2 separate regions of the Homo sapiens genome follow, and region 2 is linked to region 1. The links come from fine-mapping of genetic effects on gene expression. A gene starts in region 1. The other region holds a variant in brackets. All regions are shown on one strand. Distances are between the middles of the regions.

Region 1 (15,921 bases):
TACTTAGCAGATAAAAAGACCAGAAATAAAAGAAAAGAAGGCCAGGTGCAATGGCTGATGCCTGTAATCACAGCACTTTGGGAGGCCGAGGCAGGGGGACTGCTTGAACCCAAGAGTTTGAGACCAGACTGGGCAATATAGCCAAACCCCAGCTTTACTGAAAATATTAAAAGTGTGGTGGTGTGCACCTGTAGTCCCAGCTACTCAAGGGCTGAGGCAGGAATATCACCTGAGCCCAGAAAGTCAAGGCTGCACTGAGCTATGATGATGCCCCTGCATTCCAGCCTGGGTAACAAGCAAGGCCCCCTCTCACATACAGAAAAAAGAAAAGAAAATGTACAAAAGTAGCCTGCTCACCTCCCGTTATACCACCAGATACAGAGAGAGCAAAATAGATTGTAGGTGAGAAGAATCTCAAGAGATGTAACAAATATAATAAAAGTTGTCAGAAAGCAAAGATCTGGCAGCCAACGAAAGGTCTCCGCGCCGCACAACAAAGCAGTAACCCCGGGGTTTCACCCATCCTTGTCCACTGGGAAGCCACTGGCTGCTTTCCGAGAGCATCCCAGTCCACTGCAGAGGAGGGCTCTAAGGAGCGGGCAGGTGCTGATGGGCAGTGCAGAACACCTGTGTGCCACCACGAGCTCCTCAGTGAGGCCATTTGCAAATTCACAGCACCGCAGGGCTGGATGTCACCCAATATATGTAAGCACTTTTTAAAAAGCTAAAGTGCGTGGTAAATGATACGAGATATTCTATCTCTCGGCTCCTCTATGCTTTGGACTCTGCTGCTTTTCTGGGAGAAAACAAATGCCAGGTAAGGGCTTCCTCCTCGGGTCACAGTGTGGGATATGCTGACCCACCAACGCCCACATGGCCCACTCTGTTCCCACCCAGGGGCCCTGCACCCCTGTGGCTACGTGGAGCATGCGGCTGAGCTGAGCTGGCTCTGTGGACCTCAGTCTTGGAGGAGCGAGACAGAGACAGAAAGCACCAGAGCCTGCCCATCCCACCACGGAGTCCCCCACGGAGCCACCACCAGAGTCCACCCATCCCACCACAGAGGCCGGCCCCATCCCACCGCAGACCCGCCCATCCCACCGCAGACCCGCTCATCCCACCGCAGAGCCCCCCATCCCACCGCAGACCCGCCCATCCCACCGCAGACCCGCCCATCCCACCGCAGACCCGCCCATCCCACCGCAGAGCTCCCCATCCCACCGCAGACCCGCCCATCCCACCGCAGAGCCCCCCATCCCACCGCAGACCCGCCCATCCCACCGCAGACCCGCCCATCCCACCGCAGACCCGCCCATCCCACCGCAGAGCCCCCCATCCCACCGCAGGCCCGCCCATCCCACCACAGAGCCCCCCATCCCACCGCAGGCCCGCCCATCCCACCGCAGAGCCCCCCATCCCACCGCAGACCCGCCCATCCCACCGCAGACCCGCCCATCCCACCGCAGACCCGCCCATCCCACCACAGAGCCCCCCATCCCACCGCAGGCCCGCCCATCCCACCACAGAGCCCCCCATCCCACCGCAGAGCCCCCCATCCCACCGCAGAGACCCCCATCCCACCGCAGAGCCCCCCCATCCCACCGCAGACACGTTCATTCCACCACAGACCCGCCCATCCCACCATGGAGCACACTCATCCCACCACAAAGGCCCCCACCCTGCCCCATCCTGGAGCCCCCGCACCCAATCCTGCCACACAGCCTGCCCGTCCCGTCATGGAGCCCCTCATACTGCTGCAGAGCCCCCCACCCCCGCCCTGCGCCCCGTCCTACTTCAAAGGTCACCCTCCAGCCGCCTGTGTCCTCCGCGTTCCCCTCGGCTGGAACGTGGCCTGTCCCAGCCTCTCCGCCTTGCTTTTCATCAGCCAGAGCTTGTTTCTGGAACTTGGGACCAAAGATGCCTAAGCGAGGCCCGGCGGAGAAGCCCATCGCGTGACTGGCGCGGAGCATGGTAAATGGTGCATTTGTCACTACGGCTCGATGGTTTTCAGAGGAGGTTTCTCCTTCCCTGTCTGCTTTATGATATCTTGCAGTCTTTTTACTGAATGAAAACGTAAAGAAGTCCCGTAAGACTCAGAAGTATGACGCGTTGTGGGTAGTACACAAACTCAGAAGAGCAGTCAGAGGCGGGGCAGTGCCCGGCAGCCCCTCACACTCTAGAGCCTCCTGGTCTCTAGGACAGGCCGGCTTTCCAGTGTCGCTCTCCCCAGCCCCCCGAGAACCAGGACAGCTCAGGCCAGGAGGGCGAGTAAAACCACCCCAGGCCCAGGGCAAGGGGCCCATTTCCCTTCCTAGCCACTGGCTCGGACATGGTGAGATGTGAGGGGAGGTCTTCCCGAGAACTCACAGTAAGGTTTCCTTACTGCAAAGGTGTCCCCATCACGCCTGCAGGGCCGACATCACCCTAACAGGGGCACCGTCCTCGCATCATGCCTTCAGGACCAGCGTCCGCAGCCAGCAGGGGCTACACCGGGATGGTGAAGGCCACAGAGCAGACAGAGGGAACCTGGTTGCTGAGGATGCCCGGCTGTGGTGCTTTGTGGTAAGAACGCACAAATCCTCAGTTTCTGTTTTGTGTGGGACTTTCTATTATATGCAGCCAAAAGTATGCTGATACAGCAAAAAAACAAAAACAGAAAATCAAAACCACTGTCCACCTCAGCACCTGCCAGTGTGCAGCTGGCATTCTGATCCACATTCATTCAGCAGATGAGGGGCTCATGCCCAGCAAGGTGTCAGGTGCAGGGACACTGCCATGACCACAGTGGACGGCCCTCTATCCCACAGATCTTCTCTCCCAGCCCGTGGCACTGGATGGTGGAGGCTGCGCCCCCAGCTCTGGAGCCCCCCTGCCGACGTGGCCTGTGGCTCTGTGTGACCCCACACGGGATCCAATGCGCCATCTGACCCCTCTTCCCCAGTTTCCTCATCCGCAGCCTGCAGACAATGCCAGCACTGACCTCACAGGGCTGGCATGAGAATTCTATGAGTTAATATGAGTAACTCGCCCAGCAGTGCCCAGCACATAGGAAACGTTCAACAGATGCCAGATATGATCAGAAAACATCGAAAATAAATAAGTCGCATGGGGTGTGAGAAGGCAAGGGAGCTGGGAGCACTGGAGGGATGGCACCCACTTTGGCCTGGTCTCTCTGAGAAGCTCCACATGTGGGAAGGCTTGGAGGAAAGCAGCGACGCACCCCCGGCCTTCCTGCAGGGCACACGGGCCCCGACCAGGACCATCACTGAAGTTCAGGCACCAGTAAGGAGGCCTGGGTGACGGGGGCAGAGTGTTGAGGGGATGACCTTGGCTGGCCTGAGCAGGCCGTGAGGGGTGGTGCGGACCCCCATAGGCAGGTGGCCTGGCGCTGAGTGAGATGGAGATGTGATCAGGCTTCTAGGGTTCCTCTTTCTGGAGTCGGTATCCTTCCAGTCTGGTCTTTATGCTCCAAACTCAGTAGCTTTAGGGAAATGGGATGAAAGTATTCATACTGTCTTATAGTCCGTTCTCTTTACTTAATATGGTATGAACACCTTCTTATAGAATTAGGTACTTAACTTTCATGTTTTTGTGGATGTGTATTTTTTATAACATTGCTGTACCACCATGAATTTACCCAATCCTGTTACTGCTGTTTTCCAATATTATACTATGAAACAAAACTGGAGGGAACATCCACTTAGCTAACTTATTGTAAATTCATGATTATTTCCTTAGGAAAAGTTTCCAGAAGTGAAATTGCTGGGATAGTTACATGTAAAGAAGAGTTTTTTTAAAATTGAGTGCTGCGACTCTTGAGAAAATATCATTAGAGAAGCAAGTAGCTGGATAAATTGAAGACTGAGAAATACTGTTTGGTTGCTTTAAAGAACTACGGAACTCAAGTTTCACCAACAAAAATAAAACTTTGAATCTAATTATAGTGACAACCTAGAACATTTTGTTTCAGACCCAGTAGTGCTTCATTCTGAAATGGCCACAACAAAAGGTTGAAACTACAATTCTCAATTGTTTATGCAAATTTCTAAATTATATATAGTATAGCCAGAAAACAGATGTTCGGAAATTTGCTCAGAATGTCAAAATATTACAAAGAATGTTACAAAATGGAAATTATTTTTAAAGAGCTAAAGGTTTCATATTAAAGACCAAGAAAAAAGGTAAAGAACCTGCCGCTGTGCTTGTCTCCAGCACCCACAACTCGGAAGCAGCGGGAGAAGGGACGGTGGCGTAACGAGGCATTCACGGTGTGTATTTACGAGTTCATGCAACTGTTTATCCAGTGACATGGCCTAAAACCCTGCGGCAGGTGTGGGGATGGCCTGGGCTACCCCTTCCCGCCATCTCTGCTGCACTGAGGACAGCATGCGGACAGACTGGGGGATGGGGAAGCCGGGACCCAGTCCAAGCGAGGAATTCGGAGGCTGGGAGCATGACCTCACTCAGGCATCGGGGCCGGGGAAGCAGCATTCCAACTAGGTTTGAGAGAACAGACATGAGGAAAGGACGGAATGAAAAGCACCGTCCAGTGTGGGTGAAGCCAGAGTGTTGCTGGGGCACAGCCCAGGCAGGGAACAGGGAGTGACCGTGGGAAGCAGACAGCCAGCACCCCGGGAGGGCGACGTGGCCGGAGAAGAGGCAGGGAGTGACCGTGGGGAGCAGACAGCCAGCACCCCGGGAGGGCGACGTGGCCGGAGAAGAGGCAGGGAGTGACCGTGGGGAGCAGACGGCCAGCACCCCGGGAGGGCGACGTGGCCGGAGAAGAGGCAGGGAGTGACCGTGGGGAGCAGACGGCCAGCACCCCGGGAGGGCGACGTGGCCGGAGAAGAGGGAGGGACGCAGGTTGGGCTGGGGAATCTGTACCTCGAGGAGGCGTCAGCCCCTCTTCTGCACCTTCACCCATTCAGATCATTAGATGCGACCCAGGGCCAGGGTTCAAGGGTGATCAAGACCCTTCCTCACAGAGTGGCTATTCCAATACATCAAAGACAAGGAAAGTGGGAATTACAAGGTGGTGAGAGGTGTCACCCTAACAGTCAGAGCACAGAGAAACCTTCCCAACCCAATCTCGTGGGTCGGGGGTATATGTGGAGAGGAGACGCTGCCTCTAAGCTTGCTGAGCGAACGAGCACTTCTTCCCAACGCACAAGATGAGAGACAGAAGAGGGAAGCGGCGCTGGGTCTGAGAGAACCACGATGATGGCTCCATCCATAGACTGCCACGGCCACCAGAACAAGTCACTTCCTTCAGCTAAAACAGGTGTCTGGGCATTTAGATGCAAAGACTCAGAGGAAACGTGAAGGCACGTGAAACTTGAGAAACTGCTGTTGTCTGCAGGACACACGACGTGAATCCACGTCTTCAGCCCTAAACCACAGTAGCTTAGTGAGTGATCCAGACATGAAGACCCGGCCACGGAAATCACATGCAAATACCAGCAAAAGGCATCGCGCAGTGGCCCATGCCCACAATCGCAACATTTTGGGAGGCTGGGGTAGGCTGATGGCTAGAGCCCAGGAGTCAGAGTCTAGTCTGGACAACATGGTGAAACCCCATCTCTACTAAAAATACAAAAAATTAGCTGGGTGTGGTGGTGCACGCCTGTAGTCCCAGCTACTCGGGAGGCTGAGGTGGGAAGATCGCTTGAGCCCAGGAGGTCAAGGCTGCAGTGAGCTGAGATTATGCCACTCACTCCAACCTGAAACACAGGAGTGAGACCGTCTCTAAATAAGTAAGTAAATAAATACCAAGAAGAGGTCATCAGTGCTGAGGGTAGGCTGTGCATGTGAGTTTTGCTTTTGGTTTATTTCAAAGAAACCAAATCAAGACAAAATCATTAAAAAATACTTCTGTATTTTTAACTGTTATATATTACACAACCCCAGCCCCTGAATATAAGATCTACCCTCAGAACATCTCTTACAAGTTAGTGCCAGAGAAAATTTATCTTCACCAAAAAATGAGTATGCAACGTCTACCCTGAAAGCATGATCCTCAGGTTGAACATGGCTTTGTAGTTTTGGGTTTTGTTGACTTGACTCCCTGGAAGCTCAGTGTCAAACGTGATGCCCAGAGAATTACATCCATCCTCATGGTTATCACATGTGTTTCTTCCGATTTTCTATTTCTATTTTCTAATTAGCATTTTTTCCCTTGTCCTTCTGTGGTTAAGTTGGGTCCAAAACTTTTTGGAAAGTGGCAAGAGATATACAAAAAAGTAAAACAAGACCAGAAATAATAAATAAAACAGTTTTGAGAGAAATCAAAGAGTTGCTTGATAACTTCCATTGTGGACTGACTCAAAGTAGGCCTCAATTGTATTTTTTCATGATAAAAATAGTCAAGACTAATCCAGCATTTCCTACGTGCACCATTCTTATCACTTTACAGTCATGAATTCATTTAATCCTCCTTAACCCTATCAAGTTAATATTGCATTGGCCCCACTCTTAGTGATGAGAAAACTGAAATACGGTGAGGTCAAATAAAGAGCCAAATGCAGCTGGGAAAAGTGACTCACTCCTGTAATCCCAGCACTTGAGGAGGCCAGGGCAGGAGGATTCCTTAAGGACAGGAATCTAAGGCCAGCCTGGGCAACACTGCAAGACCTCCGTCTCTACCAAAAAAAAAAAAAGTAAAAATTAGTTGGGTGCGGTGACATACACCAACTACTAGACAGGCTGAGGTGGGAGGATCACTCGTGCCCAGGAGGTCAAGACTGCAGTTAGCTATGATCATGCCAGTGCACTCCCGCCTGGGTGACAGAGGGAGACCCTGTCTCTAAAAAGCCACTTGCAATGCTGTGCAAAAGTCACAGGACAAACATTCGTTACACACAAAAGGATGTTTTTCAATACCGCCTAACTTAAAATACATACTCTATGGACCCTTGAGATCATTCCCATTTTTCTTCTTTTGTACAGAGTATGAAACATTTTAAAGACAACGATCAGTCAGATTCACAGGTTACTTTAAAAATTTTTAACACAAGTTTACAGATGGGCTATTTCCAAATGTTTATTCATTGTTTAAAATGGTTGATTTAAATTTTTCTCTTTTTTTCCTGCCGATACACACGATGTACCATATAAGAAACAGTACCCGAAGATGAATAAGCCTTTCCCTGCAACAAGAGGTTTAATGTGGAAATGTCTGAAGAAACTAAAAGCCCATACATCCCATTTGCTTGTCAGGGACAGAAAACTCAGTTCAAAGAAACAATCTCCTGGTTTATGTAACTGAAAGTCACGGGGTAATGATGGTTCAGGCATAACTTAGTTCAGAGCTTCCAACAGCATCCTCAGGACCAAGCTCTCTGCATAACAGCCGCCCTTCTCCTCCACAGACAGATGAGGAAGGTGTCATTTCCAGACAGGCCATCCCTGCAAGGCTGTGCACTGATGCCACAACTGCAGGCCTTACACCTTTCCCGCTGTTTTTCCTAAAGCTTTCCTCTCCTTGAAAGTTCCCGCTCTTCACTCATCCAATTGCTCTTGAGAGGGAGTTAGGGCTCCGGCCAGTCAGGAGCCACCTCTGACGGGAAGTAGGGTCCGCCAAGCCAACCCCATGAGGTGGCAGGTGTTCCCTAAGGGGAGCTGGCTGCTGCCTGGAAAGGGAAGCGTACACTGAACTGCAAATACACTGGAGTCTGCAGTAACGGGTCTAGAAAGCTCAACTCCTGAAGGCCCGCCAATAAATACAGACAGGACACTTCCAGAACTAAGGCAACTGACATCCCACATGAAGACACTGCCATCAAGTCAGGAGAGGTGCACCTGCAGCGGACACCCATCACCGGGATGTCAGAACACCCAGGCCCCTCTCCTGGAGCTAAAGTTAAGGGACTGCATGTCAAGGCCCATGACCTGAGGACTGGGAGAAGATTTTCATAGGCAGATGAAGTCAGTGCACAGAAGAATGACATGAAAAAAGAAAAACAGAGCTTTACAAATGAGCTCCTACTGCCTTTGCTGAGGAGATTAATTTGTTACTGCTGTTAAGCCTTGGAAGGGAAAGGTGGCTACCAGTAGATGCAAGATTTAAACTAGAGTTTGCACACCCTACGACCCCATGCCTGGTCAATGCCAAAGCCCATCTGCTTAACTTCCCTAGAAATTAAAGTCTTTTGTCATGAGCACACGTGAAATCACTATGCTCAGTTTTTGTACGCACAAGTACCCAGGAAACAACAAAACATATTGAAGAAGTTAGTGGCACTAGAAAGCCTCGTATGATGAAAACTAGTTGGTAAAACTACGGTTGATTAAGAATAATTTTTAACTGCATAGAAAGTGTGCCTACTAACTTCCTGTATGGCAGCCTGTAATTCTTTTATAACCAACATGATGGCAATGCTCTAAATATGACTCCCATCTGGCCAAAATGATGAATCATAGTTATTTTTATTGTATCCAATGAATGACCATGGAGCATCCATCCTGAGGGTCAATAAATAGAATATTTAATCAACTTCATTTTAAAATCTATAATCAAAGTATACATCATTCAACTCCTTGGATAACTGAGGAGTCATGAAGCTTTTCCTCAAATACAGTTATATAATAAAAAAATTATAGCATTTCTTCAATTTCAACATTATGGAAGATGATATCTTCAAAATAAAACAAAACAAAATCCTCTCACCCTTAAAAAGATATTAGAGCACTTTAGTTTCAGAATTAGTTGGGTTCTGGGTACACAGAATCCAATGTAATTTAAATTCCACGAAGCCTATTTTTGCTTTTAATATTTAATTTGGAATTTCTACCAATTTCAAAACTGAAATAAGTAGACACAAATAAGAGAAGCAATAGATTGCCACAGAAGGGCATGTATGTCACTGGGGAGAAATAATGTCATGTGATCTGAATTCTACAAAACTAAAAATCGAATTAACCCATTTAAATCACAAGTAACAAAAGGCATACAAAAAGTTGGTAAATAAATACATGTTTATTTCTGTCTCAAGCTGTACCACTTTGGACAATCATAAGTGCAAAGTTCTTTCGAAGAATAACAAATAGACATTGAATACTATGAAAAGTTGACTTAGAATGCTTATCTGAGAAAACATCTTCGTGCTGAGAAAGCTTTACTTTTAATTACTTCGTTCCTTTGAATTATTTGACGTAGTACTCATTTTGCTTACAACTCTTACCCTTTAACCTGAAATTATAATATACAGATTTGACGCGGTAGATCAACAGAGGAAGCCATTCTGTGCCTCTCCACTGCTTACCCAAGAACACGGGCGATCACCAAGGAGTGACAGTGAAGGGGCAGGAATGGCGCACAGAGGCAGGATGCGTCCCAGGTCATCACTGAGAGCAGATCCCACGCGCCCGAGCTGCCGCGGTGAAGATGCCTCAGGTGACCCGAGACAGAACCGAGGACAGGGCCGGCTCTGTGTCACCTCGGTCCCTCCACGGCCTCCCCGCCCAGATGTGCTTGGACAGAGTATTGCCTACAGCCTGCTCCACATGCTGCCAGATGTAGGGGATAAAATATTCTAATGTGTTCTCTTCCAAGCAATGAAAAAGTCACACCATCCAGAAGGAAATGGTACGCACACTCTACAATTACTATTGGAGCCAAATCTGTGAGTCACCCAGCTGCCGGCACAAGACAATTTGGCTACTGGAAAATCCTGATTAATGACATTTTTTTAAACCCAGAGTAACAACTTGACCTGCCAAGAATTACCATTTTTTCATCATTTCGCCATTTTTGGCCTTGGTTATCTATTACCTTTCTCAGAGAAAAGGAAGTAAAATGAAAATGGTGTAAGGTGCGTTCACCTCAGGCCAAAATGCGCCTTCCAAGGTGCGCTGGGGCCGGGGTTTAGCGCAGCTTCGCGACCCGGGGGAAGGCTCCTTGGAGAGCCTCCTGGACTCCCTCGGGCTACGCCGAGGTACCGGGTTATTTCCCAACTGCAAGGACAATTAATTCACGGGCTGTTGATGAGATTCCTCCTGACAGGGCGGATTGTCGGGCTCCGCCAGGCTCTGGGACCGGGTCTCTGTCCGCCGCGCCCCAGGCCCGACCTCTCCGGGGGGTACCCCCCTTCGCGTCGCCGGAGCTGCCTCCAGCCTCGAGTCCGGGAAGACGGGAGAAGCGGCGGCGCTTTGGAGAATATTTACAGTTCCCAAACCCCCCACAGCCCGGGCTGGCCGAGTTCATCCACACGAAGGATAAATTCACTGCTGATCGCTTTATCTTTAATCGATAGAAGACCGGGGCCGCCGACAAGTCACGAATTTCCAATTCCAGGCCGTGGCCGGGATCGCCATTCACCGGCGGCGGCGGCGGCGGCGTCGCGCAGGGGCTGGAAGGACCCGGGCTCCAAGCGCGCAGGGCCGGGACCGGGGGCCGCGAGTTTCCGACGCGCATCGCAGACCCGCCGCGCACCCTCGCCCCCGCGTCCGCTCTCCACCTGCGAACCTACGCTGTCCGGGGGCTCCGCCTTCTCGCCGGCGCCCACCTCGCCCAGCTATCTCTCCTCCAGGCCCCTCCCCGGGTTCCCAGGTCCAGCCTGCTCCGAAGCCTCGGGCACCGCACACGCCGCGCGCTGAGGGAGGGCCGGGCGGGGAGAGGCGTCCAGTCCAGCCCAGCCCAGCCCAGCCCAGCCCAGCCCCACCTGGGCGCGCAGGCAGAGGAGCCCGCGTCCGCCGCCCCCCAGCCCTCCGCGCAGGGCTGTAATAATTACATCCTCATTATTTCTCCTGCAATCGTTAGCGAAGGAGCCGGAGACAGCAACAGCCGCTGCCGGGGGAGGCTTAGTTACAAAACCCTGCGCTGGGTAGCGCCTCGCTTAGCAACCACCCCTAAAAAAGACCCCGAGCTCCTCGCTCGCACTTGGAGAGCCGGGCGGCGGCCACCCCCTCGCTGCGCGCACCCTCCACTCCGCCTGGTCTCGGCAGCCGCTGCTGCCCGGCACAAGGGCCCCATCCTGGTCGCCCCCGCCCCCGCGAGCCCCCGTGCGCGCAGCCCAGCCCGGCACCCTTCATTCATTCCCAGTCCCCGTCGGCGTTTCCACCCGGGCTTGGGGGGAGGGGGATGCAGTCTGCTGCCCGCCGCCCCCACTCGCTCGCAGCTGCCCCACCGGAGCTAGGCGCGTAGCCCCTGGCGCGCCGGCACCCCCCAGGCTTTGCCCCCTCCACCCCGGGCAGGCAGAGCGGAGAATTTCACACCTCCGCGGCCCCGTGCGCTCCCGCACCCCCGGAGCCCAGGGTCCCGGCACCCCCGAGCGCGGCCAGGGATGCGCGGAGCCCGGCGAGGAGCGCAACGCGCGACCCCCGAGCACAGGCTGTCCCTGGGGTCCCCAGCGCTCCGGCCCCGGCGGGCGGCACGACCCCCGCTCGCCCCCGCCCCCAACCCTGACGCCCTCGGGGCGTCCCCGCGGGTCCGACACACCGCGCCCTCCCCGCCTCGACGGCTCTCGGAGCCCCGCGCCCGGCTCCCGGCAGCCCCCGGCGGCTCGCACCTTCCTCAGCGCGGACATCCTCGGACGCTCCGGGCTCAGCAGGTGCGGGGCGACATGGCGAAGCGGCCCCTCCTCAGACCGACGGCTCCCGGGGCTCGCGGGTTGGGGTCAGTACGTCCGTCCGCGGTCCGTCCGTCCGTTCGCCGCCGCAGGCGCCGCGCGCTCAGACCGCGCTCGAGCCCGGCGCACGGTCGGTCTTCACGGCCGGCGCCTGCGCACTCGGCGCCCAGGGAGGCACCGGCGCACTGGGGGGCGGCCGGCGCGCGGCTGCATCTGGGGAAGGGCCCGGCTTGGGGAGCGCGCGGGCAGCCCGGCTCCAACTGTTGCGCGGGGCGCGCGGGTCACCCGGGGACTGTGCCGGGCTCCCGGCGGGAAAGCAGCGGCCTCCACCGCGGCGCGCGCAGGCGACGCTCACCGCGCCCGAAAGTTAGCGGGGGACCCGGTCACACCCGTCGCCCCCGGGCAGGGTCAGCCTTTCTGGACCGCTGTTAGAGACGCGCCGGCGCGTTTGTGCGCGGGACTCGCGCTCGGGTTCGAGTCGGCTCGGCGCCCAGGGGGGCTCGCGGGGCAGAGGGGACGCGGGGCGAGGGAGGCGCGGGCGCTTGCGAGGGTCTCACTGCGAGGTGCGGCCGCCGCTTGGGTGCTGGAGGCAGAACCTCCCCCGGTTTCCACTGGCGGGCTACGCTGAGGAAGGTGTGCGGCGGCGGCTTCGCGGGGACCCACCGGGGGGCGCCCCGAGAACCTGGGTCCGGACGCAAGGAGCGCCCTCGGAGGGGGCCCGCCGCCTGGGTTTGCTGTGAGTGGCGTATGGACGACAGAGCCGAGGAAAAGGGAAAATCGATCCGGAGAAGTGGTGTTGACAACCACAGCAGCCGGGAAGATCAGCCACCCTGGCCACGTGTGGACGGACCCTCGCCAGGATCATGGGTTTTCCCTTCCGGGATCGGAACGCGGGAGCTAGACGCGCTGGTATGGGGATCCCTGGGCGGTCACCGACCCTGGGCAAGTCTCTCAGCCCCAGTTTAACATAAACGCAGAAATGGATTTCTGCTTTCCACCTGCATGGCTACGGCATTTAAATGAGGTAAAAGATGCGAAAACAAACCGCATAGAAAGACGGATGGGAGTTAGAATGAAATCAGGTCATCCAAAATATTTGGAATGGACAAACCAATCTTTTCCAGAAATTCCAAGATCTTTAAACAAAAAACAGGCTCTGTAAGAATTCCCCGTATAATTGATCACCAAAATATTCATCAGTTGCAGTTTATTTTCAAGGCAGAGTGCTAAACGACGAGGGGGTAGAAAGGTGAATGGGAGAAAGAAGTCCGGCCGCTGTCCATTTCTTCTAAATGTTTCCCGAATCTATCAGTGGTCTCCACTGTCAAAAAAAAAAAAAAAAAAGGTGCATTCAGCGCCCAAACCTCAACTAGGGAGAGATTCCAGGCCAATTTATTTTCATTTCACAATTTACTTTCCCTTTGCTTTCCTCCCCTGCATTTCGTCCCCATCCCTTCACGTTTTTTAAAAATATATATATATATTATTTCATGCAACCGCAACAAGAAAATCACACAAATGTACTGACGGCCTCTCCTGTGTTCTCAGCGTGTGAGCAGCACAGAAAACCACGGTTGCCGCCCCATGAAGCCTTCAGTCTAGAGAGGGATCCGCCCAGAAGTTACCCAAGGAACAGACAATTACAAGTTATAATTCTCTGAAGGAAACATATGGAGTGTTATTGGTGAATGTGAAAAGGGCAACAAATACAGTTTGTGACATCAGAAAAGAACTTTTTGAGGACGTCGTTATTAAATCTCCCCCTGGGTTCTCCCACAAGCAGGTTTTGAGGTGTGGATTTGGGTGCAGGTAGTTCATTTGGGAGATCGATCCCAGGAAACTAGAGAGAGGAAGTAGGGAGAGAGAGGCAGGGCAGGAGAGGACGTCCCAGAGGCTGCGGTGACGCTGGGCTGCTCCTGTGGCCACCGGGGCCCCGTCCTGCTGGGGTGCTCTAACAGGAGCAGCTTGGAGTGCACGTCAGCTTAGGAAGGCTGGACAGCTTTTCAGCTTCTAGGTCCCAGTGACTGAGGGCTGCTCCTCACCCACACACCCCACTCCCCAAGTTGAGCACCTCCCAAAGCTTCAAAGAAAGTCCAGAGGCCAACCAGCAGGGGAGTGCACGGGGACCTGAGAGCACATTGAGGGTGGCATCAGAGGTGGCCTCTGCCATGGCCCTGGGAACAGGATTTAGGGAGATAAGAGCAGGCCTGAAGACCTTGGGAGATAGAAGGACTTGATGCCTTTTTTTTTTTTTTTTTGACGGAGTCTCACTCTGTCACTAGGCTGGAGTGCAGTGGCACTATCTCAGGTCACTGAAACCTCTGACTCCCTGGTTCAAGCGATTCTCCTGCCTCAACCTCCCGAGTAGCTGGATTACAGGTGCACACCACCATGCCCTGCTATTATTATTATTATTATTATTATTATTATTATTATCATTATTATTATTATTATTTGTATTTGTATTTTTAGTAGAGGCGGGGTTTCACCATGTTGGCCAGGATGGTCTCGATCTCCTGACCTCGTGATCCACCCGCCTCGGCCTCGCAAAGTGCTGGGAGTACAGGCGTGAGCCACTGTACCTGGCCTTTTTTCTTTTCTAAGACAGGGTCTCACTCCTGTTGTCCAGGCTTGAGTACAGTGGTGCTGTCACGGCTCACTGCAGCCTCAACTTCCCTGACTCAGGTGATTCTCCCACCTCAGCTTTCTGAGTAGCTGAGACTACAGGTATGTGCCACCATGCCTGGCTAACTTTTTGTATTTTTAGTAGACACAGGGGCTTGTTATGTTGCCCAGACTAATCTCCAACTCCCATGCTCAAGCGATCCTCCTGCCTCCGCCTCCCAAAGTGCTAAGATGACAGGCATGAGCCACCATGCCTGGCCACATTTTCGTTTAACTGAACAGTCAGAATAACTGCAACTGAGGGAGAAAAGGACCACATGATTGTGACGGGAGAAAAACTCAGGGGTCTTTCAGGACATTTTAAGGGCTTTGATTTGTATCCTCTATACAATGAATTATGATGTAGGATTTTGAGCAAGGCAGAGATTTTCTTCATAGACAATCCTGTCATTTGCAGAGAAAACTTCTATTTCTCCCTTCCCAATCTGTATACCTTGTATTTCCTTTTCTTGTCTCATTGCATTGGCCAGGAATTGCAGTGTAACAGTGAGATGCAGTGGCAAGAGGGGGGGGCCTTGCCTTCTTCCTGATCTTAGTGGGAAAGGCTTCTAGTTTCTCACCATTTAGTATGCTGTTAGCTCTAGGGTTTTTGTAGGTGTCCCTTATCAAACTGAAGAAGTTACCCTCTAATCATAGTTGGCTGAGGGTGTTTCGGTTTTAAATCATGAATGGGTGTTGGATTTTGTCAAATGCTTTGTCTGCATCTAATGATGTGATTGTGTGGTTTTTCTTCCCTATCCTGTTGCTGGATGGTCCACCTTCAGTGATTTTTGAATGGCAGTGAGGTTTTAAAATGACCATTTTGGCTGCTATAAGAAGAAATGTCGGTAGGATGGGAGTGAGGAACAAGAGTGGAATTGAGATCATTTTAAAAATGCTCGGAGAAATCCTGGGATTTCAGAGATCAACTTAAAAAAGGCTGGAGAAATCCTAGTGACAAATGATGAAAACACAAACTCAGCAGTGGAAGTAAGACACGTTGCAAGTAGAATGCGCTTGATGTGATTTTTCTGGATGGGTTATTCAGGAAGAGAGGAAGAGGAGAGTCACCAATGACCCCCAAGTTTGGCCCAGCAATTGGATGACACTTCTGGGAGGCCTTAGTGTGTTACATGCTTACTGAGAACTGTGTGTTGGAGCTGGGGACATGGATGCCTTGGGGACTTTGTCAGGAGCAGGTGCAGTGGAGGGGTGGAGAGAAAAGCTGGACGGGGTCACAGAGTCCATGGAAGACGTCAAAGTGGAGACGGGCTTTGTAATCAACTCTTTCCGCCAGTTTGAGTGTGGGAGAGATTGAAGAAACAGGGCTGGAGAAAAATACATTATTTCCTGGGAGGATTTTGTTATGGGGGCGTCCACAGTGGGCTTGAGTGCTGGTGAGAATGATGAAGTGGAGAACAAGTTCAAGATGCAGCCTCATTACAGGGATTATTTCCCCTCCTGCATCACTCATTTTCAACAGTAATTTGATCAGGTCAAATTATCTCTCTCTCTCTCTCTCTCTCTCTCTCTCTCTCTCTCTCTCTCTCTGTCTGTGTGTGTGTGTGTATGTGTTCTGTCTTCAAAAACCCTCCAGTTATTGCCCCATTTGCATGGTCCCGCCAGAGAATGGTGTACAGTCAATGTCTAACTTTTCCTCGAAATTCTATGAATTTCCATCAAGTTTCTGCTT
Region 2 (15,921 bases), 370 kb before region 1:
TTTTGTTATAAGTTGCTGCCTGACACAGGGTTTTGCCAGCAGACTCATTTTTCAGCCCAGCCCTAAAAGTGCTGAGTCCCACTTTTCATCTTAGCCATTTCCTATAGCAGCCTTCCAGAAAGGGTCTTCCCAACTACAAGGAAACCTTTCTAGTGAGAAGTCCCTAAAGCAGAATAAGCTAGGGTGCTGGACCCCATTCACTGTATTTTATTTAAAATCATGGTGCCAACCACTCTCCTAAGTCAAGGTAGGGTCAACTGTGACTCTCACAACTTGTACCAACTCTAGAGGCAGCTGTGGTCCAACTTCAAGGTGAAATTCCCCATTGGATATAAAAAGTTTGACAGTCCCTGGGGATACTTAAATTCAAAGTTGAGTGGCGAAGCCTCTCACACATGCCATCACTTGAAGCTCAGCTGTTCACATGAGGAAACAGCGTGTGTGCTGTGGTGGGACCAGTTCCAGGCACGGCACCCAGAAGCCTCAGGCTGCTCAGCATCTCTCAGCTACTGCCCCTGCTACCCCGATCTGCTGAAGAAGAGCAGCAGGGCTGAACTGCGAGAAGCAATGGGCCTTGTGCTCATTTATGAACTGATGAGTACAGAAGTTAAGCAATGTTCTTGGTGTCATGGAATAAAACCAGCACTCACATGACGCACTGCAGTAGATGCACAGTCAGCCTCCCATGTAAGAGCATGGGGAGGCAACTGGAGCTTCTTTCTAGCTAAACACGCTGGACACTAAAATATTTTGCAGATGAATTAACAAGCTTATATTATGTCAAAGGCTGAAATAAAAGTAGTCCTACAAAAGATTCCAAACCTACTTAAAATTTACGTCTTATTCTGCAAATTGCATGCCTTAAGTGCGGGAAGGATGTGGCATTTATGCCATCTCAGTGCAAAATAATATGGGCCAAACTGCAAATCAGTACTTAAATGGGAAAAAATCACTTATCAATTGAAAATAGAATCGGTTATAAAGTAGTAGGAAAATAGTTAATGGTAAAGTTGTCTATTAAGTATTTATATGAAGTAATTATACAGTCACTTGAATGGTTCTCCACAGTTATGCTTAAATAAAATGATATTGAACATCAAACGATAAATTATTCTATGTAAGCATAATGCTATGTCTCACAAAATAACACTCACCTAGTCCCATAAATTTAAACTTAACTATAGGTGTTGGTGTCATTTCGAGGAAACAAATTATTTTGAAAAATTGTATCATTCCAGGAAGTACAGCCATGAAGAACTCACCCAAGGTCGTTTTCCATCATTTAATTTAGTTCAGATTCAAAAACGGTCCCACCACATAGTACATGTATATTTATCTCCAAGTTCTTTCGGTCCTCATAGCAGAGTGTCATGATCTTGAAGGTTGCTCTAAGCACTGACAAAATGCCCTCAGTACAGGGGCCGTCTGCAGTTCCTCCTAGACTTCTGTTTGGGAGGCAGAATTCCATTTCTACTGATTAAAAAGAAAGCAGCAGCAGCAGCAGCAGCCCCATTCATTTCTATTCGCACAGTTTAGCTTCTTTTCCTGATGCTGCTTTTGGATTATAATGAAGACATTTGTCCCAGTGCAGAAGTTTTGCCCTGAAAATAAATTAGGCTTTTCTTGGCAGCTAAAATGAGCACTTTACACCAGGTGGGCTCTTTTCACTGTCCTCAGTCACGTAAGGAACTGAACAAAGACAATGTAATGCAGTTTCGAAAGTTTCTCAGTCTCTGCTCACACACTACGGGGTCAAGAGCTGCAGATGCTGGAATCAGCACCAGAGTGAAGCTGAAGAAGTTCCCCCGAGCTCACATCCTACTTACATAAGGGACTTCAGAATCTCCAGACATGGCCTATTTAAAGTGTAATGAATGCATTTTAGAAAAAGCCATTAAAGCACTTTCTGAACTGCGGTTAATTTCCCCACTCCGCCCGCTCCTCTGTCAACTGACATGCAATGCTTTTGGGAGCTGAGGTACAGCATTCAGGTCAAAACCACTTAAGACCAAATGAATCTATACAACTTTTGAAAGCATATCAATATTAACGAATTTGCTTTATAATTTCATTGGAACTATTCCATCTGGAAAACGGTATCTACTCATTAACTTTTATTTTAAAATGCTTTTTCCATGTTTGAATTGCTGATACTTTTGTCTGATTTTCTTAAAGGAAAAAAAAAAACTTTCAAAAGCCTAACTGTGAACCAGTGCTGCCCACTGTGAAAGGGGGAGGCTCTGAGCCCAAGTGAGTGTCAAGAATGCGCAGGTGATTCTGTGTGCCTGCTCTCCTGGGGGAGCCCCCTGGGGGTGTCTTACAAAGAGTCCTGGTCTGGAGAACAGCCGCCTCCCCCTCCTCTCTACTGCCCTCCCCTCACTCCGGCAACCACAGGGTAAGAATGAAAAGGCCATCTCAGTTCAGACTTGCTCTACTCAGCGTCCATCCCACCCTCAGTCCTGATTTCTAAGCATCTTCCCACCATGAGCCTGTTTCTTCTCTCTGAATCTGACGGTCAGGAATGAAAAGGCCGTCTTGGTTCAGGCTTGTCCTACACAGCGTCCACCCCACCCTCAGTCCTCATTTCTAAGCATCTTCCCACCGTGAGCCTGTTTCTTCTCTGTGAATCTGACACTTGATCACCCATAACCCACTACACATTTCTAACCTTTGGCTTCAATTTCTTGGCTCAAAGAAGACCGTGCATCGTCACCGCATCCCCAGCGTGGCGTCCCCAGTGTGGCACCTCTGAGTGGTGGGATCTGTCTGCACACCTGCCCAGGGTTGTGCCATCAGCCTCAGAGAGGGCACAGCCCCGAGGCACTAGCTCGGCACTGTGCTTTGTCCACAGGCTCACCTCAAGAAGACAGGTCAAACAGACGGTGTTGGGTTTTCCAAGACAGGTCAAAGAGACGGTGTTGGGTTTTCCAAAACCTCTTCTTGATGCTGGGTCCCAAGGAGATGAAATTGCTGTAGCAAATTTTAAAAACCCATAAAGCTTTGGGATCCTGCAGAGAAGCACAGGGTTCATCTGAGGACTGCACATCGGGTTTATTTTTCAGCTTTCTTTTGGCAGAAGCGATCCTGGGATCTCCCTTCCGCAGAGGAAGCCAGTAGCTGTTGGCTGCGGAAGAGGTTTTGCTTTGGTTTCTGTCTTCCCATCAACTGTGTTCAGACTCAGAGTCAACTAATTTTTATTCAGTTCTTCGTGTTCCAGATACAGTAATGAATATTCTCTTTTTTTTTCTCTTTTTTTTGAGACAGGGTTTTGCCCTGTCACCTAGGCTGGAGTGCAGTGGCACAATCACAGCTCACTGTAGCCTTGACCTCCTGAACTCAGGCAATCCTTCCACCTCTGAGAGCCTCCTGAGTTAGCTGGGACTACAGGCATGCCACCACGTGTGGCTAACTGTTTTTATTTTTTTGTAGAGATGGGGTTTTGCCAAGTTGCCCAGGCTGGTCTCAAATGCCTGGGGTCAGGCAATTCACTCACATTGGCCTCCCTAAGTGCAGGGATTGTAATTACTGGATATTTTCAAATATATTATCTGCCCCATTCTCAATGTGAGGTGAATATTGTCACCCCCACTTTACAGATAAAGAAACTGAAGAAATAAGAAAACCCTCAATGCCTCTTGTAAGGTTATCTAGCACCAAATTGTAGAATTTAAATCCAAACCCAGGTTTTCTGACCCCAAGTCTTCCGGGCATCAACCGCTCACTCTTCGTCCAGGCTGTGGCTGAGACACAGCTGGTGCTTTGGAGGGTGGTCGGTAACCCTTAGTCACTTGACAATACAGAAAACCCAAGAGCATGTCAGGACCCAGATGAACGGGGAGGGCCTGCTCCCTTCTCACACGGAAGGCCAGTGCGGGTGTCCCCAGCTGACGCCTGCGCACCCCATGGGGATGGGATTGCGTACCGCATCAAGGCCAAGATCTCCAAAACCACAGACACCCACCAGGCCCACACCCCCAGCTTTCCAAGAACCCCTGGAAAGTCCTCCCAAGTGACTGTCACTGGCCACGTCTGACGGAGTGAATGGCTCCCACGGTGCTGTCTGCTGGGATCGTTTCCTGGGCACTGATGTCTATGAGTGATGCTCTCATGCCTTCTAGAAGATTCCAGGCCCATTATGTCCCATCACTGAGCAAAGGACAACAACGTTCCATACACCTGGCACAGTCCCCTGTGTGTGGCAGGGATAAATGACTGACTAGAAGAAGAGCCCAAATGAGATCATCTCAACAAATTCGAAAACTGTCATTTGTGCCTTAAAATGAGTGTGGCTGACCGCTGATGTGAATTCTCATGCCAAAGCACCAGCTGTAACTCTACATAGCCAGTGGTCTCAGCACTGGGGATCCCTGGCAGCACAGACACTTCACAGCTACACCTCCGTCCTCTGAATTGTTTGATTTTACCACTGCCTACAAGAAGGATCCCTAAAGATGCCACCACTGTATTTAGATCATTTAAATTTCTACAGCATCTATGGTGTGGTAGGCACTGTCTTAGGCACTTTACATACACAAACTCAGAATCTTCACAATATTTTTATAAAGTAGTTATTACTACTCCAATTTTCAGATGAAAAGTTATTCCCCGTGGTTAAGAAACATGCCCAGTAAAGGGTTCAATTCAACAAGAAGGCCTAACTATTCTAAATATATATGCATCCAACACAGGAGCACCCAGATTCATAAAGCAGGGCTTAGAGACCTTCAAAGAGAAAAAGACTCCCACACAATAATAGTGGAAGACGTCAACATTCCACTGACAGTGTTAGACAGATCACTGAGAGAGAATTAATGAAGATATTCAGGATCTGAACTCCACATTGGACCAAATGCATATGACAGACCTCTATAGAACACTCTACCCCAAAACAACAGAATGCACATTCTTCTTATTGCCACATGGCACACACTCTAAAACAGACCACATAATTGAACATAATCCTCAGGCAAATGCTAAAGAACTGAAACCATGCCAAATACAATCTTGGACCACAGCACAATAAAAGTAGAAGTTAAGACTCAGAAAATCACTCAAAACCATGAAATTACATGGAAATTACACAACATCCTCCTGAATGACTTTGGGTAAATAATGAAATTAAGGCAGAAATCAAGAAGTTCTTTGAAACTGATAAGAACAAAGAAAGAACATACCAGAATCTCTGGGACACAGCTAAGGCAGTGTTAACAGGAAAATTCGTAGCACTAAATGCCACATCAAAAAGTTGGAAAGATCTCAAATTAACTACCTAACATCACAATTAAAAGAATTGGAGAAGCAAGAACAAATCAACTCCAAAGCTAGCAGAAGACAAGAAATAACCAAAATCAGAGCTGAAGAAAATCAAGACACGAAAAACCATTGAAAAAAATCAATGAATCTAGGAGTTCATTTTTTGAAAAAAAAAATTAGTAAGATAGGCTGCTAGCTGGAATAATAAAGAAGAAAAGAGAGGAGGCCCAAATAAATACAATTAGAAATGACAAAGAGAATGTTACCACTGACCCCACAGAAATAAAAATAACCACCAAAAACTACTATGAACACCTCTATGCACACAATCTAGAAAACCTAGAAGAGATGGATAAATTCCTGGACACTTACACCCTCCCAAGACTGAACCAGGAAGAAGCTGATTCCTTGAGCAGACCAATAACAAGCTCTGAAATTGAATCAGTAATGAATAGTTTATCAACCAAAAAAAAGCCCAGGACAGATGAATTTACAGCTGAACTCTACCAGATGTATAAAGCAGAGCTGGTACTATTTCTACTGAACCTATTAAAAAAAACTGAAAAGGAGGGACTCCTCCCCAACTCATTCTATGAGGCCAGCGTCATCCTAATACCAAAACCTGGCAGAGACACAACAAAAAAAGAAAACTTCAGGCCAATATCCTTGATGAACATCGATGAAAAAAATCCTCAGCAAAATTCTTGCAAACCAAATCCAACAGCATATCAAAAAGCTAATCCACCACAATCAAGTAGGCTTCATCTCCTGGATGCAAGGTTGGTTCAACATACACAAATCAATCAATGTGATT[C/T]ATCACATAAACAGAACTAAAGACAAAAACCATATGATTGTCTCAATAGATGCAGAAAAGGCTTTTAATAAAATCCAATACCTCTTCATGTTAAAAATTCTCAATATACTAGGTATTGAAGGAACATACCTCAAAATATTAAGAGCCATCTATGACATCCCCACAGCCAGCATCATACTGCATAGGTAAAAGCTGGAAGAATTCCCCTTGAAAACTAGCACAAGACAAGGACGCCGACTCTCACTAGTCCCATTCAACATAGTATTGGAAGTTCTGGCCAGGGCAATCAGGCAATAGAAAAAATAAAGGGCATCCAAGCAGAAAGAGAGGAAGTCAAAGTACCCCTGTTTGTAGATGACAAGATTCTATATCTAGAAAACCCCAGTCTTGGCTCAAAAGCTCTCTCAGCTGATAAACAACTTAACCAGAGTTGCAGGATACAAAATCAATGTACAAAAATCACTAGCATTCTTACACACCAAAAACAGCCAAGCTGAGAGCTAAATCAGGAAGGTAATTACATTCACAACTGCCACAAAAAGAATAAAATACCTAGGAATGCAGCTGACAAGGGAGGTTAAAGATCTCTTCAATGAGAATTACCAAATGCTCCTCAAAGAAATCTGAGAATGCACAAATGGAAAAATATTCCAGGCTCATGGATAGAAAGCATCAACTTAATTAAAATGGCCATACTGCCCAAAGCAATTTATAGATTCATTGCTATTCCTATCAAAATACCAATGACACTCTTTACAGAACTAGAAAAAAACTATTGTAAAATTCATATGGAACCAAAAAAAAGCCCAAATATCCAAGGCCATCATAAGCAAAAAGAACAAAGCTGGAGGCATCATATTATCCAACTTTGAATGATACTACAGGGCTACAGTAACAAACAGCATGACAGTGGTACAAAAACAGACACACAGACCAATGGAACCGAATAGACAGCCCAAAAATAAGGTTACACACCTGCAACCATCTGATCTTAGACAAAGCTGACAAAAATAATTAATGGGGAAAAGACTCCCTAGTCAACAAAGGGTGCTGGGATAACCGGCTAGTCATACGTAGAAGATTGAAGCTGGACCCCTTCCTTATGCCATGTACAAAAAGCAACTCTAGATGGATTAAAGACTTAAATGTAAAACCCAAAATTATAAAAACCCTGGGAGACAACCTAGGCAATATCATCCTGAATGAGCAAAGATTTCATGATTCATGCAATTTCTGCAACAAAAGGGGAAATTGACAAATGGGATCCAATTAAACTTAAGAACCTCTGTAGAGCAAAAGAAACTATCATCAGAGCGAACAGACAAACTACTAGAATGGGAGAAAATATTTGCAAACTACGCATCTGACAAAGGTCTCATATCCAGTATCTATAAGGAACTTAAACAAATTTACAAGAGAAAAACAACCCTATTAAAAAGTGGGCAAAGGACGCCCGGGCGCGGTGGCTCACGCCTGCAATCCCAGCACTTTGTAAGGCTGAGGCAGGTGAATCATGAGGTGAGGAGATCGAGACCATCCTGGCTAACATGGTGAAACCATGTCTCTAATAAAAATACAAAAAATTAGCCGGGTGTAGTGGTGGATGCCTGTAGTCCCAGCTAATCGGGAGGCTGAGTCAGGAGTATGGCATGAACCGGGGAGGCGGAGCTTGCAGTGAGCCAAGATCACACCACTGCACTTCAGCCTGGGCAACAGAGCAAAACTCTGTCTCAAAAAAAAAAAAAAAAAAAAATGGGCAAAGGACATGAACACACTTTTTAAAAGAAGACATACATGTGGCCAAGAAGCATATGAAAAAACTTAAATATCATTTATCATTAGAGAAATGCAAAGCAAAACCCCAATGAGATATCATCACACACCAGTCAGAATGGCCATCATTAAAAAGTCAAAAAATAACGGATGCTGGTGAGGTTGTGGAGAAAAAGGAACACTTATACACTGTCGGTGGGAGTGTAAAGTAGTTCAACCCCTGTGGAAAGCAGTGTGTGGTGATTCCTCAAAGAGTTACAAGCAGAACTGCCATTCAACCCAGCAATTCTATTAGCGGGTATATATCCAGAGGAATATAAATCATTCTACCATAAAGACACATGCACGTGAATGCTCACTGCAGCACTATTCACAAAAGCAAAGACATGGAATCAACTTAAATGCCCAGCAATGACAGACTGAATATAGAGAATGTGGTACATCTATACCATGGAATACTATACAGCCATAAAAAGAATAAGACCCATGACCTCTGCAGGAACATGGATGGAGCTGGAGGCCATTATCTTTAGCAAACTAACCCAGGAAGAGAAAAACAAATACTGCATGTTCTCACTTACAAGTGGGATCTAAATAATGAGAACACATGGACACACAGAGGGGAAGAACACACTCTGGGGTCTATCGGAGGGTGGCATATGGGAGCGGGGAGGGGACCATGAAATATAACTATTGAGTAGCGGGCTTAATTAAACCTGGGTGATGAAATAACCTATACAATACATCTCTGTGACATGAGTTAACCTAAGTAAGAAGCCTTCACATGTACCGCGGAACCAAAAATAAAAGTTAAAAAAGAAAAAAAAAAGAAACACGCCCAAGGTCACACAGAAAATGGGGACTGGAACGTGAACCCAGGGAGTCTGGCCTGAAAATCCACAGCCTTCAGCACACACAGTGCTGGGTCTTCCGGGAGCTGAGGGAAGACGATTTCTGCCATCACTCTGGGAGCGCCAACAGGAAACTAGGCAAGTCGGACACTAAGCCACCTCTCTCCATGTTTTCTTTGTATTTAATTTATTTTCTGTAGCTTGGCCATCTTTGCATTTCCAGCCCTGCCATCAGTGATGTTCTGGGCTTGGTAAGGCGGAGGAAGGCCCGGGCAGAAAGCAGCCCCGGAGTCGGGCACTGTGGCGTGCAGGTGGCACACGGGTGTGGAGCATGTGTTCCAGCAAGCACAAGGAGAGGCTGCTCAAACCCACGTGTGACCTTCGGCTGGCAGATGCATCTGACTTACCCAGCCAAGGAACCAACCCTCACACTCCCTGACCCCAAACCCCCAAAAGCACCATCCACAGGGAAGGGCCCCACAGACAGGGGTAGCTGAGCCCTGCACCAGGCACAGAGGGTGTGTGGGGTCCCGGGGGTCAGGGCTGTGCAGGGTGAATATAGAAAGCTGTATGTGAGAGAGAGGGTCTGTAAAAACAGTGCCACTGCAGGGCTGCGGGACACTCAATGTCTCTCAAAAAAAAAAAAAAAAAAGGCTATAAATCTTCCCTGAAAATGGAAAGCAGTTACTTGCAGATGTTTGGGTTTCTCATTGTTTTCCCCTAATTTCAGGGACAGTATGGCACTGCTGGATCTCTCACATGCCAGATGCAGACACACTGAAGACCCATGCACACTTCACAGGCACGTGCACACCTCACCCACCCTATGCACACCTCACAGACCCAGCACACTTCACAGGCACGTGCACACATCACAGACCGAGCACATGTCACAGACCCATGCACACCCCACAGACCCAGCACGTGTCACAGACCCATGCACACCTCTCAGACCCATGCACACCTCACAGATCCAGCATACTCCATAAGCACATGCACACATCACAGACCCAGACCCAGCACATGTCACAGACCCGTGCACACCTCACAGACCCAGCACATGTCACAGACCCGTGCACACCTCACAGATCCAGCACATGTCACAGACCCGTGCACACCTCACAGATCCAGCACACGTCACAGACCCATGCACACCTCACAGATCCAGCACATGTCACAGACCCATGCACACCTCACAGACCCGTGCACACCTCACAGATACAGTACACATCACAGGCACGTGCACACCTCACAGACCCATGCACACCTCACAGACCCGTGCACACCTCACAGACCTGTGCACACATCACAGACCCAGCACACTTCATAGGCACGTGCACACCTCACAGACCCAGCACATGTCACAGACCCATGCACACCTCACAGACCCGTACACACCTCACAGACCCAGCACGTCACAGACCTATGCACACCTCACAGATCCAGCACACTTCATAGGCACGTGCACACCTCACAGACCCATGCACACCTCACAGACCCGTGCACACCTCACAGACCTGTGCACACATCACAGACCCAGCACACTTCATAGGCACGTGCACACCTCACAGACCCGTGCACACCTCACAGACCCAGCACATGTCACAGACCCATGCACACCTCACAGACCCGTACACACCTCACAGACCCAGCACGTCACAGACCTATGCACACCTCACAGATCCAGCACACTTCATAGGCACGTGCACACCTCACAGACCCATGCACACCTCACAGACCCGTGCACACCTCACAGACCTGTGCACACATCACAGACCCAGCACACTTCATAGGCACGTGCACACCTCACAGACCCGTGCACACCTCACAGACCCAGCACATGTCACAGACCCATGCACACCTCACAGACCCGTACACACCTCACAGACCCAGCACGTCACAGACCTATGCACACCTCACAGATCCAGCACACTTCATAGGCACGTGCACACCTCACAGACCCATGCACACCTCACAGACCCGTGCACACCTCACAGATCCAGCACACTTCATAGGCACGTGCACACCTCACAGACCCATGCACACCTCACAGACCCGTGCACACCTCACAGATCCAGCACACTTCATAGGCACGTGCACACCTCACAGACCCATGCACACCTCACAGACCCGTGCACACCTCACAGATCCAGCACACTTCATAGGCACGTGCACACCTCACAGACCCATGCACACCTCACAGACCCGTGCACACCTCACAGATCCAGCACACCTCATAGGCACGTGCACACCTCACAGACCCGTGCACACCTCACAGACCCGTGCACACCTCACAGACCCAGCACACTTCATAGGCACATGCACACCTCATAGACACATTCACACCTCACAGACCCAGCACACTTCATAGGCATGTGCACACCTCACAGACCCGTACACACCTCACAGACCCAGCACGTCACAGACCTATGCACACCTCACAGATCCAGCACACTTCATAGGCACGTGCACACCTCACAGACCCATGCACATCTCACAGACCCGTGCACACCTCACAGACCCAGCACACTTCATAGGCACATGCACACCTCATAGACACATTCACACCTCACAGACCCAGCACACTTCATAGGCACGTGCACACCTCACAGACCCAGCACACTTCATAGGCACGTGCACACATTATAGGCACGTGCACACCTCACAGACCCATGCACACCTCACAGACCCGTGCACACCTCACAGACCCAGCACACTTCATAGGCACGTGCACACATCATAGGCACGTGCACACCTCACAGACCCATGCACATCTCACAGACCCGTGCACACCTCACAGACCCAGCACACTTCATAGGCACATGCACACCTCATAGACACATTCACACCTCACAGACCCAGCACACGTCACAGGCACGTGCACACTTCACAGACCCAGCGCACATCACAGGCACGTGCACTCACTCACATCTCACAGCATCATCTTACATGACGGCTTCAATCACAGGCCGCCCTGCAACGTCAAACAAGCATGAAGGCTGCTCCCAGGGTTTCGTTTGTTCTATTAATGCTGAAAGTGGTTAACTTTCAGAAATTGACTGCACTGTCTTCTTTTCATTTCCCCATAGATTGGGGAAACATTCAGCACATACTGAGTTTGGAAACCATTCTCCAGAAAGCCTCCAAATGCATCTGGACAGGAAGGACAGTGACAGCCAATTCATTTCCCATCAACCTTCCTATCCTTTCTTCTTACCTAAGATCTCCACTTCTGCGCAGCGTCCAGTCCATCCTTTCACATGGTTGGAAAAACAAGCTGAAATTAGGACCATTTTTTCAAAAAAGCAACAATAAAAAGAAAACACGCAAGTTGGTTTTCTGCCCCTCTGGAAACTCAGGCTCAACTACGACTATTCTCTATTTGCTTCAGGCGCTTCAGGAAGGAAAGCTGAGTCCACAACCCAGGGTTACGTTCTGTGCACATCCTGGTCTGTCTGCCATCTCGTGAGCTCCCTCTCGTGCTCCCCGAGCTATAGACATTTGTCAGCTTAGGGTGGTTCGGTGTCAGGAAGGCTCCTGCCAAATGCAACATGGGTGTGGAAACACAGCATAGGATGGGCCGTAACTCACAGAGGGGGATGGAGAACAGAGTCCCTGGCATAATAAATGTGACGAATGGCAAATACTATGTGTGCTTTACAAAAACAGCTCTGCTGGGACAGAGCAGGGAAGAGCAGGGGAAATAAAGCCTCAGGAAGCCCTTCCAGGCACACGTCACACAGAAAGCCCATTCTCCTAGGATTCTCGATAGTCAGCTGCCTCCGTGTTTCCACCCTGGAATTCCGCTGGAAAATAACAGCACACGAGCTTCCCACGCGAGGGGCCCTGGCTCTCCCTGTGAAGAGCTGTGGCTTTTTCTCAGGCCAAATGAGACCCACACAGGACAAGGATCTACCTGGTGCACAGACGCTTCCTTTGGACGCCTCTGGAAGCCTTCGCTGACCTCTGTGTGAGTGGATCTGAGGCCTAGGCAGGCCCGGGTGCGGGGGCTCAGCAACAGCAAGGGGTCTGTGCCAGCCCAGCCTCCCAGCCCTGGAGTGGTGATGAGTATCTAGAAAGCACTCAGTCACCCTCACCTCCAGCCTCTCTGTGAGCTATTGTCTCCATTTTACAGATGAGAAAACCAAGTCTTGGAGCAAAGTCACAGAACCAGTGCACTGCAAAGCCTCTGCTCTCTCCACTTTGTGGTGCTTTAAGTACCCCCACTGATTTTTATTTTGATGCGTGTGTGATACCGCCCGCAGGTGAGCAACTCACACAAAAGTCACATTTTGTTAGAATGGGAAATGCATTGTCAGTACACTCACTGCTGCCTGCTAGATGCTGTATACAGGTGCGGTTTAATAGACTCTCTCACTCTGCTTATCTGGCAAGACTCTTCCCAGAAGAAAATACGTCTGAGATGTTGAAGCAATCCTGCTCCTAGAACCCTTAGAGTCTTATCCTCTACAGAGTCCAAATGGTTCTATTCTCATTTGATAATTTGCTTTTGAACACAGTTCATCACAGGTGTCACTCACAAGTAAGTGACAAGCACCTCACCCTCCTAGAATGGCTCCCTTCAATAGAAAACCCTCCTAGAATGGCTCCCTTCAATAGAAAACCCTCCTAGAATGGCTCTCTTCAATAGAAAACCCTCCTAGAATGGCCTCCTTCAGTAGAAAACCCTCCTAGAATGGCTCCCTTCAATAGAAAACCATCCTAGAATGGCTCCCTTCAATAGAAAACCCTCCTAGAATGGCTTCCTTCAGCAGAAAACCCTCCTAGAATGGCCCCCTTCAGTAGAAAACCCTCCTAGAATGGCTCCCTTCAATAGAAAACCCTCCTAGAATGGCCTCCTTCAGTAGAAAACCGTCCTAGAATGGCTCCCTTCAATAGAAAACCCTCCTTGAATGGCCTCCTTCAGTAGAAAACCGTCCTAGAGTGGCTCCCTTCAATAGAAAACCCTCCTAGAATGGCTCCCCTCAATAGAAAACCCTCCTAGAATGGCTCCCCTCAATAGAAAACCCTACTGGAATGGCTCCCCCTCAATAGAAAACCCTTCTAGAATGGCCTCCTTCAGTAGAAAACCCTCCTAGAATGCCCTCCTTCAATAGAAAACCCTCCTAGAATGGTTCCCTTCAATACAAAATCCTCCTAGAATGGCTCCCTTCAGTAGAAAACCTCCTAGAATGGCCTCCTTCAATAGAAAACCCTCCTAGAATGGCTCCCCTCAATAGAAAACCCTCCTGGAATGGCTCCCTTCAATACAAAACCCTCCTAGAATGGCTCCCCTCAATAGAAAACCCTCCTGGAATGGCTCCCTTCAATACAAAATCCTCCTAGAATGGCTCCCTTCAGTAGAAAACCTCCTAGAATGGCCTCCTTCAATAGAAAACCCTCCTAGAATGGTTCCCTTCAATAGAAAACACTCCTAGAATGGCCTCCTTCAATAGAAAACCCTCCTAGAATGGCCCCCCTTCAATAGAAAACCCTCCTAGAATGGTCCCCCTCAGTAGAAAACCCTCCTAGAATGGCCCCCTTCAGTAGAAAACCCTCCTAGAATGGCTCCTCTCAGTAGAAAACCCTCCTAGAATGACCCCCTTCAGTAGAAAACCCTCCTAGAATGGCCCCCTTAAGTAGAAAACCCTCTTAGAACGGCCCCCTTCAGTAGAAAACCATCCTAGAATGGCCCCCTTCAGTAGAAAACCCTCCTAGAATGGCTCCCTTCAGTAAAAAAAAAAAAAACCCTAGAATGGCTCCCTTCAATAGAAAACCCTCCTAGAATGGCTCCCTTCAGTAGATAGTGCACCGGCAGGAAGCTCCTACCTTGTCACTCAGGCACAGACCCCCGCTCAGCATGGCTACCCCCTCCCTGCATCTCCCACCATCAGAGAAACACGGACCAGAACCATGTTAGGGTGACTGTTCTCATCAAAGGACAAAAGTCACAGGTGCTGGTGAGAATGCGGGGAACCTGTTCCCAGCACTATCTCCTCCTTCAGGCAGAACAAGGTTAATCCCCACAACATGAGACCCCTACAGTTCCACAGCCCTAACTAATCACAACTGTGGTAGAGTCTTCACTTTCAGAATACTTTTCATTTTCAGGCACCACGGTTGTAATTTTTAAGAACTTTTTCTCTGTAGAATGGATCACATATGAAAAGGTGGCGTTAAGAAGGTAAATCAATGACACATCATCACTCCGAAATCTCAGGATAAAGTATGAGCCTGTACACTGGGATTCGGGGCACCCGTGGGCCTCCTTCAACACATCCTCATGTCATGAGACCGCACCTTTCCGGCTTCCTGCCTGGTTCTCCCAGGTGGACCATCAGGTGTGGCACCTGCACGGCTGGCCGCTGCCGACCACTGCTCCTCCTCTGCTCCAGGGCGTCTGGCGAGTCGAGGTAGGCGAGCACGAGATGGCAGAGATTTTCTCCTCTGCTAAGAAGGAAGCTGCCGGTGCTCTTCAGAGGCCCTGCAGATGGAGGAAGCACACTCCACTTCCTGCTCTCTGGTGAGGGATGCAACCTAATTAAGGGTAATTAACCCAACAGCAGGTGCGAGTGGTCCCGGGGCTGCCTCGCTGACAGGCCTCGGGCACAGGAGCAAACTGGGGAAGGAGGTGGCAGCCCTGGGCCCCGGGACCCCAACCCCTCAGTGCAGCCCACCAGCCCAGGGAGCGACAGCTTCTTCCTCTGCCAAGCGGGGTTGCAGGCGGCGATTTCCTGGAGCAGCCCAAGGATTAAATGAGACAGAGTCAGCAAACGCCTCGGCCAGGCTAGAAACCATTCGGGCCTCTGTTATTGATCGTGTTCAGGATCAATTAAGTCAAGAGTTCAAGTCCCTCTGAAGATGCTCGTGGTTTTACACGCCCACCCCTAAGGCATCTGCTCTGGCCCACACGTGCCGTGACTTCTTGTCACCAAAGGGATTTCCGTAACATGACTGTGCTGGTCCTGTGGCTGGAACCCTCTCCCAGGCTCTCTTTACATGGCTGGCATCAACCCTCCCTCCACTATTTGGTGATGTAACATGGCTGTGCTGATCCTGCGGCTGGAACCCACTCCTGAGCTCTTTTTACTGGGCTGGCGTCAACCCTCCCTCCACTATCCAGTGCACGCCCCTCTCCAGCCACCTTGTCTGAGGCTCCACCGTGGCCGGGGCTGGATGCTGTTCTTGCTCCTGAATCATCCATCACCAGCAACCCCTCACCCTAACACG

Direction of the effects. Positions count from the first base shown, and alleles are read on the strand shown. Sizes are in standard deviations (SD) of each study's normalised expression.
For the expression in thyroid of the gene that starts at base 11,702 in region 1, allele C in region 2 goes with a lower level than allele T (large effect, 1.5 SD a copy in GTEx).

What was found.
Region 2: its variant is fine-mapped to the expression of DLGAP2 in thyroid (GTEx, PIP above 0.99).

What each region holds. Positions count from the first base shown.
Region 1 is chr8:733,409-749,329 of GRCh38, reverse strand. It overlaps DLGAP2 (DLG associated protein 2), which reads right to left and starts at 11,702. Exons shown (of 15, transcript NM_001346810.2): 1 at 11,505-11,702. The coding sequence starts at 11,522. It overlaps LOC124902044 (a long non-coding RNA gene), which reads left to right and starts at 12,300. Exons shown (of 2, transcript XR_007061156.1): 1 at 12,300-12,473; 2 at 13,113-13,296. It overlaps LOC401442 (a long non-coding RNA gene), which reads right to left and starts at 10,782. Exons shown (of 1, transcript NR_134292.1): 1 at 8,956-10,782.
Region 2 is chr8:1,104,137-1,120,057 of GRCh38, reverse strand. The region is part of intron 2 of DLGAP2 (DLG associated protein 2); the gene reads right to left. LOC124900249 (a long non-coding RNA gene) reads right to left here and starts at 14,450. Exons shown (of 2, transcript XR_007060781.1): 1 at 11,129-14,450; 2 at 1-10,440. RefSeq lists enhancers at 10,927-11,843, 15,120-15,621. The variant C/T (reference allele first, on the strand shown) is at 6,068.